Linked DNA regions of Homo sapiens: all the other regions are linked to region 1. The links come from fine-mapping of genetic effects on gene expression. A gene starts in region 1. Each other region holds a variant in brackets. All regions are shown on one strand. Distances are between the middles of the regions. Region 1 holds the start of MRTFB (myocardin related transcription factor B). Region 2 overlaps MRTFB (myocardin related transcription factor B). Region 3 overlaps MRTFB (myocardin related transcription factor B).

Region 1 (4,245 bases):
GGACAGATCTGTATAATGAAGATTCGCCTGGTACGAGAGTCTTTCAAATGAACGGGCAGATTAAGCCCACTATAAACTGGCATTACTTTACAATATTTAAAAGTTTTTATAAGAAATTGCAGGGAAACTCCAGTAATGTAGGAGAAAGTAGCAAGGGAAGCTTAAATAGAGTAAGGGAAAACTGTCTAAACATTAGCGATCGTTTCCTCACACCACACACCGTTAACATACAATTGTAGTATCAGAATACTGAGCATATACAAACAAGTGAGATACTGATATTGAACCAAAAATTTTCAACCTTGTTAATATTTTATTAATTATTACCAATGGTAATTGTTAGGAAGCCAGTATTGTCCCTTCGAGTGTGTGACACAAAAAATTCTACAATATAGTTTAAAAATATGGATCCATGGAGGGCTTGTGCTAATATTTACGTATTTATTGAGACAGTCTGTTATTTGTCTTGCCATGTTATCCCTAGTTCAATCTAGGTTGTTTCTCTCTTTAATTCGCAAGAAACAGGTTATGCCAACCTAGGTGTTTTTCCCAACCTCCGTCTGTATCTCTGCTCTTTCCCTGAAGTAGCGGCCTCACTCTGTAGCCCAGGCTGGAGGGCAGTGGTGCAATCACAGCTCACTGCAGCCTTTAACTCCTGGGCTCAAGAGATCCCCTCACCTCAGCCTCCCAAGCAGCTGAGACTACAGGTGTGCGCCACCACACCACGCTAATTTTTTCTTTTTTTGTACAGGTGGGATCTCGCTATATTGCCCAGGCTTGCTCTTGTTTGAAATAGCTCCTCCTAATTTTTTTTAACCAATACAAATGTACTCATTAGAAGCTGGCACAAGCACCCCAGTATATACTGTCTTCCAGCACAAGAGTATGTCCTAGATGTGAATGGTACAGCAACATCTGTCATATACTGTTCTCTATTTCGCCCTTACGCTTCAATCAAACCATCATACTGCTTTTCAAGGATGTGTGTAGGGAGGTCACATTGTTTATGAATTTCATTTCAGGGTAGTAAAGAGGGCTTTATACATGTTTGCTGCAAAGGGGAAGAAGGGACCTTGATTCTGACGAGGTTGAGAACCACTGTTCCCAAGAGTGGAATCGCGTGCTGAAACAAAAATCGAACTTTTAGAGAAGAGTTTCCTTTGCCTAAGGCAAGCCCTGGGCTCCAATATTCCACTTCATTGGGCCTGACACCCCACTACCAGCACACGCCCGCTGCTCTCAGCCCACCTCTGCTTCCAAGCAGGGCCAAACAATGGTTCTTGACCACTTGGGGATCGGGGACCCTTTTAGGAACGAGACAAAAGCCCTGGAAAAACTCTCTCCCAAGAAACCCATATACCAAGCTGCATCCAACTTCAGGGCGCTCCCAGACACCCCCTCTGAAGCCTGGTCGGGACCCCAGGAGAAAAGGGCTGAGGGGAGTGGGAGGTGGGAAGAGGAAGGGGGCGCAGGGGTCCCGGTCCCCTCCCACCGCCTCCTCGCAGTGTGGCTCTGGCCCGGGCGCTCCACCTCTCTGTGCAGCCCCGGCGTGCAAGCGCGCAACTTAAGTGCCCGGCACACAGCAGAGGCTCCATAAACGCCGCTGCCACTGTCAGCAGGGCCAACTCTGCAGTCGAGATGGACACTGAGGCGGCCCCGGGGTCGCGCCCGGGCGCGAGGACCGGTTGAAGGAGGCACCGGCCCGCGGCCCCGGCCGCCCCGCCCCGCGCGAGTCCCGGGGACGGTGCGGACCAAACGGCGCCGCAGCTGCTGCGGGGACGAACAGGGATGGCTGCCTGGGACGCGGGATGTTCACCAGGCCCGCTCCCCCACCCAGCCCTCGGTCTCGGCCGCTCTCACCCGGCCTCAGCCCCCAACGGCCGCCACCGCCCGCCGCTCACCTCCCCGGCCGCCGCCGCCGCCGCTCCCGCCGCCGCCGCGCGATCTCGCGAGACTTCGCTCCCCTCGGCACTCCCCCTCCTCCCCGCGGCGCGCGCGGACCCCAGGCTAGAAGCGGCTCGGCGCGCTCCCCGGACGCTGCCCACCCCGCCTCAAGGGTCAAGCCCGGCCTCTCTCGCTGCTCGCCCCCGACTCCGTCCCTGCGTGCACTCCGCCCACTCCCGTGACTGGGAAGGGTTAAAGCCCAGGTGCGAGGCGGCCGCCTCCTTCTCACCTGGCCGGCCGGGTGCGCGTGCGCATGCGCATGTCCGGGGCTCGGCCCTGAGCCTCTGCAAAGGCTTGGACGGTGGCGACAAAGGTGACCGCTGCCACCCGTCCTGAGTGCTCGCTGCGCGCCGAGCACTTAACAGCCCCCTTCGGTCCTCACACTGCCCTCCAAAGTGGGTATTACCAGCCTCCCCATTCTAGAGAGAGGAAAAATGGAGGCCTGGCAAGGAAAGTACAGTAATGGCTCCATGTCACACAGCCAGGAATTGGCTGAGCCAGTGTTGGGATCTGGGGTTGTCTGATGCCCAGCCCAAAACCCATTTCTGCACCTCAGTGACAGCCCCCAGGCCCTGTCCCTCTTTCCGTTCAAGGCTCAAGGCGCTGCCTCTCAGCCGCAGTCTTCATTCTCTCCCAACATTCACCAAGGTGAGAGGAGGAGCTCCTGGGAAGTCATTTGCTACAATCTGTTTTCAATGGAGCTGGCGACAGTAAAGTGCTTCTCCCTCACTTTACAAACTTCCCAAGGCCTGTGAAGCCCCTGTGCCACTCCCTGTGCAGCTCTGAAGACTGTGTGACTATTTTTATGCGGTTCTGTCTCCTCCTTAGACTGGTGGCGTTTTGCTGGTAGAGAGCATGATGGAATGGCACACAGGACAGAGAATCAGAATGTACATGATGTTAGCACACAGAAAAGTGTGACTTCTTCCCAGGAGTAAGTCTTAATGAAATAATAATTGTTTGTAAAGAGGAAGGGCTAACATTTATTGCGGGCATATCAAGGTCATACCAATCTTCTTGCAATCCTGGAGGTGGAGAAAGTAGCCTGTTTCCATTGTGAAATAGGATTTGAACCTGGGTCTGAGTCCGGAGCCCAGCACTACCTTGTAGGTAGGTCCTGTTCTGCAAGCAAGCGAGCATGAGCTAGCTCATCTGGGCCGGCTGCTGTAAGATCAGGAGCCCTGGAGGTTCTAGGTAGCCTTCCACCTGCAACAGCGTCTGCATGGGCTTACCCAGCCCACCTGATAATCACATCAATGTCAGCAAGTGCTGGCCTGCCCATGCTCCAAACCTGTCCACTCTCCCCGGAACCAATTGCTGTGTACAGGCCAGAGCATGTGGGTGCCCTTGCATGTTTCAACCTCACTCAACTCACCAGATGGAGGAAGTGGGTGAAGAAGGAAAATCACACCTGCTGGGCAGCTACAAAGTGCTGAGCCCTGCTCCAGGTGCTGTCTATTTATTAATTTATTTAGCCCTCCCAACAACCCTGTATTAGGGTTCTCCAGAGAAACACAGCTACTAGGTTCTAGATAGATGTAGGCTGGGCAAGGTTGCTCATTCCTGTAATCCCAGCACCTTAGGAGGTCCAGTCAGGAGGATCACTTGAGCCTAGGAGTTTTAGACCAGCCTGGGTAACACAGTGAGACCCCGTCTCTACAAAAAATAAAAAGAATTGGGCATGGTGGCACATGCCTGGAGTTCCAGTTACTCTGGAGGCTGATGTGAGAGGATCTCTTGAGCCCAGGAGTCGAGGCTGCAGTGAGCTCTGACTGTGCCACTGCCCTCCAGTCTGGACAACAGAGTGAGACCCTGTCTCTAAAAAAGAAAAAACTATATAGATTCATAAGAGGGGATGTATGATGGCAGCTGAGAAGTCCTACGATGTGCCATCTCCAAACTGGAAAGCCAGGGAAACTGGTGACATAGCTCAGTCGCAGTTGTGGCCCGAGAACCAGGGAATCTGATGGTGTAACTCTCAGTTCGAGGCTACAGGCCTGAGAACTTGGGAGCCACTGGAGCGAGTCCTAGAGTCCAAAGCTGGAGAACCTGGGCTGGGCGCAGTGGCTCATGCCTGTAATCCCAGCACTTTGGGAGGCTGACGCAGGTGGATCACCTGAGGTCAGGAGTTCAAGACCAGCCTGGCCAACATGGTGAAACCCCGTTCTCTACTACAAATACAAAAATTAGCCAGGTGTGGTGATGGGTGCCTGTAATCCCAGCTACTGGGGAGGCTGAGGCAGGAGAATCGCTTGAACCTGGGAAGAGGAGGTTGCACTGAGCTGAGATTGCATTATTGAA
Region 2 (4,245 bases), 30 kb before region 1:
ATTCTCATCACTCTCTGAACTTTATTCGCTGAACTCAAGGCTTCCTATTCAATAAAATTTCCCTGAGCACCTTTGATCAGGAGTTTTGCTGGGTGCTGGGATATGGAGATGAGTAAGATCTATTCCCTGACTTTAAGGTAAGTAAGGAAGCCAGACAAGAAAACAGACATCACAACATAGTGTGGTAAAGAATATTAGATGAGAGCAAAGTGCTGTGAAAGCAAGGAGGTGTGCAGAGGGAGGGGTTTTAACACAACTGGCCAAGGATCAGCAAAGGGATCCCAGAGGAAGTAAGTGCTGGAGCTGAGTCTCAAAGAATAAGATTGTAAAGTAGAGGCAGATGTGGAAGAAAGAGAGGGCACTCCTGGCAAAGGGAGCTGATATACAAATGGTCTCTCTACTCCAAGACTTTGTATCACTCAACATGCTCTACTTCACCTTCTCCTTTCACCTTAAAGCTAATGCAACAGCATGCCCCCAGATAGAGAAAACTGCACATTCTAAAGTACCTACCATGAAAGGGAAAAAGGCAGACACACATACTATGTGAATATTATTAAACTCCAAGGCATGTAACAAGAGAAATAATACCATGTTTTAACATACTGCATTGTTTGCTGGACACAGAAAGTTTGAGAACAAATGAAACTAAAGAGCCAATCTTTAACACTGAAGAGCTAACAGTTTTTAAAGCAAGTATAAACACATGGAAATTCAGTTGCATTTGTTTAATTAGAATAAATAATATCTGTAAGTCTAAACGTAGATGTGGTGGGTGAGTTGAATTTACTCTAGAAAACACAAAAACTCTAAAGTAAATATCTTCTTATCTGTATATGACCCTTAATTATTTTCTTGAGTCCTTGAGAGGGGGGAAAATGGTTCCCTACCCAAAATATTAAACATGTACGAGTGATAACTCAACACATTTTGTCATTTCACCCCCAACTGGAAGAAAGGTATCATTATCATCTCCACTTTACCAATGAAGAGGCGACGTTAAGCCCGTGATTAAGAGTCAGGATTAGAACCCAGTTTCCTGACTCAAGAGTCTGGATTCTGGTTCTTGCACTGTCACAAAACTAGCTGCTTAGCCCACTTGCTGTTTTCTCCTCTACAAAATTAAGTTTTAACTTTGAAAATCAAACTATCAAAGGAGCAGCTTGCTCTTTCAACCACAATTTCTTTTTTTTTTTTTAAAAAGACTCAGGTTGCACTTTATTTTTCTTTAAAGAGAAACTAAAATAATACACACAAACCCTCTGCCCTCATGGCCATTTGAAAATAACTCCTCTATTTTTCTCCTTTTGTTTCTTCCCTACAATTGACCACCAGTCCCATTAGTGCCTCTCAGCAAACAGCTGTTATGTATTTTTCAAAATACCTAAATATAGTACCTTGATTTAAATTGGAGAGGAACTCAAACTTTCTAATAGGGACACTGAGAAGATGTTATTACATTAGGCTGGTTTCACTCCACTTATTTAAAAAATCATAGAATTCTATGCCTTTTTAATGATGAAAATCCTTTTTTAAAAAAACTCAGAACTTGTCTTAAACAAGGAATAGTTTATTGGAGAAATACCTGTTACTAAGTGACCCTAAGTTTTCAGTGGGATACTGATGTAGATCTTTATAATAATCTCACCTCACTCTACCCCCAAGTTTTCCTCCTCTTCAACAGAATCTTGTCAGCAACACTTGCCAAAACTATTACAGCTACAGTTACCATGACCACCACAAACAGTGTTAATAGAAATTGAAAGTAGATTTGTCAATCAAACCCAAAGGAACATCAGCTGTGTGCAAAATTACTCCTGGCATATTCTAACTCATTTTTCACAATACAGCAACCAAGAAGGAGATGTGTAGTCAATGTAAAATAAACTTTAAGAACTAATAATTTGGGTTTGGTCTGATAGATTTATCCATAGAATTCACCAAAATACGATACCTGAGACACCAACTTCTCCAAGGGGCTCTCCTCATGCCACTCCTCACAAGCTAAGCACTATTCTGTGTATTCCCTCTGCACCTCTACTTGCTTCTACCATAGTTATTACACTATAAGAAAAAGGACATAGGCTATATAT[C/T]TTAACTTTGTGTCTTAACTTCTCTGAGCCTCAATATCTTATATGTCTTAGAGAGGAAACAGCTCAAATCAGCATCTGAAATGAACTACACTTTACCCTTAAAATCAGAAAAACTTAGCAAAAAAAAAAAAAAACCCTACATAATTATGTGTACCCACAGAGAGAGTAAGCAGAAAAGAGAAAGCAGTGAAGAAAAGAGCAGAAAAATCAATGAAACAGAAAACAAAAAAATCGAGAAAAATCAATAAACCAAAAGCTGGTTCTTTGAGAAGGTAAATAAAATTGATAAACCTCCAGTTGGACTGATCAGGAAAAAAGAGAGAAGACACAGATTACCAATATCAGGAGTGAGAGAGGCAACGTCATCATAGATTCTATGCTAATAGGGGAATATTATGAAAAACTTTAAGCCAATAAATTCAACAACTTAGATGAAATGGACAAATTCCTTGAAAGATACTACTAAACTCACTCAAGAAGAAATAAATAACCTGAATAACCACAGATCTATTTTAAAAATTGAATTTGTAGTTTAAAATCTCTCAAAGAAAACATTAGATCCAAATAGCTTCACTGGTGAATTCTAGCAGATGTTTAAGGAAAAATGTAATACCAATTCTATCTAAATTCTTTCATAAAATTGAACAGGAGAAAATCCTCCCCATCTTGTTCTATTAGGCCAGCATTAACTTGATACCAAAACCAAAGACACTAGAAGAGGCTCTTATGTCCCTCATGAGCAGAGATATAAAAATTCTAAACAAAATTTTAACAAATTAAATTCAACACATAAGAAAAGGTACATGACCAAATGGGGTTTATCCTAGGAATGTAAGGCTGGTTTACCATGCGATACACAATACAATTCACCCTATTAACGAATTAAAAAATAACAACCATATGATTATCTCAATAGATGCTCAAAAATATCTAACAAAATCCAACATCCATTCCTGATTAAAAACTCTCAGCAAACTAGGAATAGAAGAGAACATCCTCAACCTGATAAAGGAGTCCACAATAAACCTATAGCTAACATCACACTTAATAATAAGACTTAGTGTTTTCCCTTTAATATGAGGAACAAGACAAGCATGTCCACTTTTACATTTCTATTCAACATTACACAGGCTCTGCTAGAGGTTCTGCTCGTTCAATAAGGCAAGAAAAATAAGTAACAGGCACTCAGATTAGAAAGGAAGAAGTAAAACTGTCTTCGTTTAAAAATAACATGATTATGAAAATCCAATAAACTCTACAAAAAAAGCTAGTAGTGAGTATAGAAAAGATGCAGAATGGCTGGGCACAGCAGCTCACACCTGTAATCCTAGCACTTTGGGAGTCCGAGGTGGGTTCACCTGAGGTCAGGAGTTCGAGACCAGCCTGGCCAACACAGTGAAATCCCATCTCTACTAAAAATACAAAAATTAGCTGGGCGTGGTGGTGTGTGCCTGTAATCCCAGCTACCTGGGAGGCTGAGGCAGGAGAATTGCTGGAACCAAGGAGGCGGAGGCTGCAGTGAGCCGAGATCGTGCCACTGCACTCCAGCCTGGACGACACAGTGAGACTCTGTCTCAAAAAAAAAAAAAAAGAAAAGAAAAGATGCAGAATACGGCTGGGCATGGTGACTCACACTTGTAATCCTAGCATTTTGGAAGGCCGAGGTAGATAGATCACTTGACCAGTCAGGCCAACAGGGTGAAACCCTGTCTCTACAAAAAATACAAAAAAATTAGCCGGACATGGTGGTATGCACCTGTGGTTCCAGCTTCTTAGGAGGACCACTTGAGCCAAGGAGGCGGAGGTTGCAGTGAGCTGAGATTACACCACTGCACTCCAGCCTGGGTGACAGACCCTCTGTCTTAAAAAAAAAAAAAAACCCACCAAAAAAACCCACGTAATTTTATATTGAAAATTTAAAAAATACTATTTTAATAACACCAAAAAATACAAAATATTTAGAATAAATCTGACAAAAGATGTGTAAGATCTCTACTTTAAAAACACTGCCTAGAGAAATTTTAAAAAATATAAATAAATTGAGAGAAATAACATGTTCTTGGTTTGGAAGACCCAGACTTAATGTTGTTAAGAAGTCAATTCTCTCCAAACTGACTATCAATATCTCAGTCAAAAATCCCAGCAGGCTGTT
Region 3 (4,245 bases), 170 kb before region 1:
TAATTATTCTACTCAGGATGTTTTTTTTTTCCTGTTGAGATTCTATAATACTCTACCTATTAAAATGAACAGTTTGGTATTTTACTCAATCTTTAAAATAACAGAAACATGTTAATCTATTTTTCTCCCAAATCAATAGAGGGGAGAAAAAAGAGAGAGGTTGCTAACGAATGTGATCGGCAGATGAGAGACCTGCGTTCAGAGGGATGCAGTGGCCTTCGGGGACCTCCAGTGACCTCCCATTGTGCAGACAAGCTGGGCTGGACTAAAGCCTAGTCCCTTTGGGCGCTTGCTCCTTTGTGGTGGCAAAGGGCTACATGATTCAGGTAAACTCCCACCACTATGGGCACTCTATGACTTCCACATTCAGTTTCTTGTAATGGAATTTTGATAAATATAAACAATGCGTTAGGAAACAAGGCCTCCATTTTTAGGATCTGGAAATTGAACAGGACTTATATTCTTTTTGTGGTTAAATAATACACAAAAATAAGTGTTCTTTCTCCTTCTAATATCCTGGGTCTTTTTGTATGATACTATTCTTGGGTGAGCTTGGTTATTGTAGAGGTGCTGAATGTCTGAGGAGGAGAGGGGAATTGAAGCCTTAATGGAAAGACAAAGAACTGGTAACAGTTCAGCAAGCCCACACCTCTGATGGATTCTTCCTATCTACAAAGCCAGTCGCACAGCCAAATTCTTTCATTACAGAAAAGACTGTTTCAAAGATAAGGTGAAAATCCCAAAGGATTTTTTTTTATAACAGCGTCCTCATCTGGGAATGGGGTCAATAACAGCAATTCCTCCTAGACTTGAGGCGAGGATGAGGATGATGCACGGTTTTAAGCACAACGCATTGTAAGTAGTAACTGTGAGACATCATTACCATTATTATTATTATTATTATTATTATTATTATTATTATTATTATTATTGGTGCCCAATGCCAAAGGAGGATGGCAGTGGAGGAGGCCTCCCTAAGGCCTGGACAAAGCTGCAAAGTAGCAGCAGCTTGTCTGTGATTCTCTTCCAATTCTCTTTGGTATCCCCTGATTCCCTTCCAATGTCAATAGCTCACTCGGGCCTGCCTGCTCTTAAAATAGTAACTGGATACAAAGTTCTTTCTCTCTTCATCTCCATGCCCTGATGTTTTAGATTTAAGTACTTCACAATCAGGTCTGAATTACTAATAGGTTTAATCTTCCTCAAGATATTTGAATCTTAAGAGGGAAAAGAGGGGCTACCTATGAGGGAATGCTTACGCGACATGTAGAAAGCAGAAGTTTCTACAGGTCGTATAATCATAAGTTGAATAACCTGATCATGGCTAATAATTTTTCATTATAATGAGCTTTTGCATCTCTTTCTAGAGTTAAATGCAAATATTTCTTTTTCATGAAAAGTGAGGAAAATGAAGACAAGATCTTTGCATTTTTATCTCTGTTTCCCAGAAAAAGCATATTGGGAATGTATATCCAGAAATTTTCTTTATTACGTAATTAAAATTAGCCATTGATGTCTTGCTGTGAATTCAGTTTCAGAAATTGTCAGAATTCACTCCCTTCCGTCCCCCACAGTTGGGTTCAAACTTTGAAAACACCTTCCTTCTCCGCAGTTGTTCGTCACCAAGGCCTTTAACTGTCTTCTGAAACACTCACTCTGCTGCCAGAGCTCTTCATTGTCTCCAGACGTCCCTTCAACACCAGCATCCAGCTGTTTTTTCTTATATTTTGGCCTCACTGCGTCAGCAGCCTGCTCTGAAGCACTCCGTTGTCTATCTGCTGTGTTGAGTAAGGTCTTCTGCCCAGCTTCAAGTCCCCTTAGACATTGGCTGTACTCGATTTTTGTCTTCCACTTTTTACTTAAAAATTAATCAGATTCTTTGTTTAGGCAATTTTTCTCACCTTCCAATGAAGAGGCACTACTTACTCTATTCCTTCCTCTGTACTAGTGCTCACAGCATTCCCCTGTGCCTGGAAAGGCCCTTCTCGAGCCTTCTATATACAAAGATCCTGTCTTTTCCACCAGGCTTTCCTTTGACCACTCCAGCTTTCATGCCCATCCTTCTCTTCTTTTAGCTGTTTATGCCAGGTATTATACTACTTACGCTTTTCTCAGAGCATCTAGTACTATTTTGGTGTTCTAATAATAGGCAAATCTGGATGAATAATTGTGAAAAGGCATTTCTAACTTGTAAAAATTCAGAACCTATTTTGGAGGACAGAAACTG[G/A]AATGGAATGCAGGCCACTCTCACCATGTGGACTTCAGACACTGTGTGATAAGCTCTGATAACAAAGAAATGAAAATCATTACTGAGCACAAATAAATGACAACATTCAACTTTTGGTAACTTATAGTTCCTCATAAAAAACCACAGAAAACCCCGCGTTGAGGATAGCATGGGCCCCGCCGTACTTGAATGGTGCAGGCAGGATGGTCTGGTAGTTGTAGTGCTGCTTCTGCTGACTCAGGATCTGCAGTTGCAGGAACAGCTGCTGCTGCTGGAGCAGGCGGGCGTAGTTAGAGTCCATCTGCGGCTCATTCTTCTCACCCTTCTGATCTGGTGGAATGTATTGGTGGTACTTTAACTTCTTTACCCGTGGTTTGGGATCTTTGCACTTTTTGCTACGGTGTTTGTCATTTGGATTCTTGGGATGGCTTTGCTATTTTTGAGAAAAAGAAAATAACATTTAAAGAGATGTCACCACATAAAATCTTTTGTACTGCGTGACTAAATGATTTGAAATTAAAAAGAAATGTACCTTAGATACGGGTACAGCCACTTTGGAAAGCAATATGCTAAATTCGTTTCAAAAGCCATGAAAACGTTTGCATATTAACTTTGACCAATAAATTTTCTCCTGCTGCACTGTTCCCTCAGGGTATGGGCAAGATGCTCAGCATGAGCTGTTCAAACTCAATGCACGCTGACCTTGGGTCTCCCGTGTGAACACACTACCAAGTGCTTACACATACAATCTCCTAGTAAAAAACAAGCTGCATGCTAAATATACAATGGGAAAAGGTTAAGTATACTTCACCAAAACCATGTAATACCTAAAAATTCTGTGGAGAATATGTAAAAATGAAAAAATGCTTCCAATGAGAAGAAAACAATATAAACTATCTTTAAGCAATATAATACAAAAACAAATACTGAATGATATGAACATGAATTTGAAAATTTTTCAAATACTACATTTTTCCTTTGAAACTGGGATGTGAGACCATGTATCCCTCATCTCAAGATTAGGAATCAGATGATGTTTTCCTGAGGTCTTGTTGTCTTCTCAGTTTTTAAGTTATCAGATCACTTTATACTTTTCAGTATTCAGATTCTAAGATAGCGTCATCTGAAAAAAACCCATCCAAACAAACAAAAAAGAAAATATACGAAAGTATTGCTAAGCTTCTGTAGGGAACATACCCAACTTAATACAAAGACTTTGAGAAGTACTCAATTAAATGGAGCTATTGATATGATCACATTATCTATATTCATATCCAAAGAATTAGGACACTGCAACCAAAGAAGAATAAAACAAAACTCACTGCATTCTGCAGGTTAGGAATAGTCTCATTTCTAATGTTAGGCTATTCTAACATTCATAGAATGTGACTATTAACATTCTTGTTTATATCCTTCCTTTGGATATGTTTTAATATAATTGGGATGATACCATATATGCTTATTAGAAATGTGCCTTTCTCTCTTCATCTGACATGTCATGAATTCTTAAATCCCTGGTATAAAAGAATGATTCTGCAACAAGATTTTTATGGCCATTTTTACATAACAGTTTACGGACATAGCCAGCGGGGTGCTGGAGCCAGCTCTTACTCATGAGAACCAAACGTGTGCTGTTTCTCCCAATTGTGCATTCAGCAATATCACACCGGTAGCCTGAAACTGGCCACTGTGGGAATATTTACACCATGGGAATTGGCAAAGGCTATAATCTGCCCTCTGAGCCCAGCCAGTTATTAAACATTTACCGGCATACTACTGGACATAATATAATCCAATTAACTAGGAGCCTATTTTTAAACACTGGTAAATAAGAATTTATAAAAAGTAATTATGTATTGGAAATGATTGGTTGTTAATCTCATCTCATGCTTTCAGACTTGAGCATCAGGACCTGGCCTCCTAGTTCTTTACTGACTTCTACGACACATATGACAATCCCAATGCTCTTTACTTTCTTCAACATAACTTTAGTGACTGTTCTTGATGATTTTAATATC

The links. PIP is the estimated chance that this variant, and not a neighbour inherited with it, causes the effect. A credible set is the group of variants that fine-mapping cannot tell apart.
Region 2: its variant is the best candidate, but not a certain one, in a credible set for the expression of MRTFB in tibial nerve (GTEx, PIP 0.76).
Region 3: its variant is the best candidate, but not a certain one, in a credible set for the expression of MRTFB in unexposed skin (GTEx, PIP 0.72).

What each region holds. Positions count from the first base shown.
Region 1 is chr16:14,069,022-14,073,266 of GRCh38, reverse strand. It overlaps MRTFB (myocardin related transcription factor B), which reads right to left and starts at 1,948. Exons shown (of 17, transcript NM_001308142.2): 1 at 1,902-1,948. RefSeq lists silencers at 1,484-1,563, 1,704-2,173.
Region 2 is chr16:14,099,110-14,103,354 of GRCh38, reverse strand. The region is part of intron 2 of MRTFB (myocardin related transcription factor B); the gene reads right to left. Among named protein-coding and RNA genes, the nearest start is that of MRTFB, 30 kb to the right of the region's middle. The variant C/T (reference allele first, on the strand shown) is at 2,094.
Region 3 is chr16:14,238,652-14,242,896 of GRCh38, reverse strand. It overlaps MRTFB (myocardin related transcription factor B), which reads right to left. Exons shown (of 17, transcript NM_001308142.2): 10 at 2,413-2,660. Among named protein-coding and RNA genes, the nearest start is that of TRT-CGT2-1, 45 kb to the left of the region's middle. The variant G/A (reference allele first, on the strand shown) is at 2,228.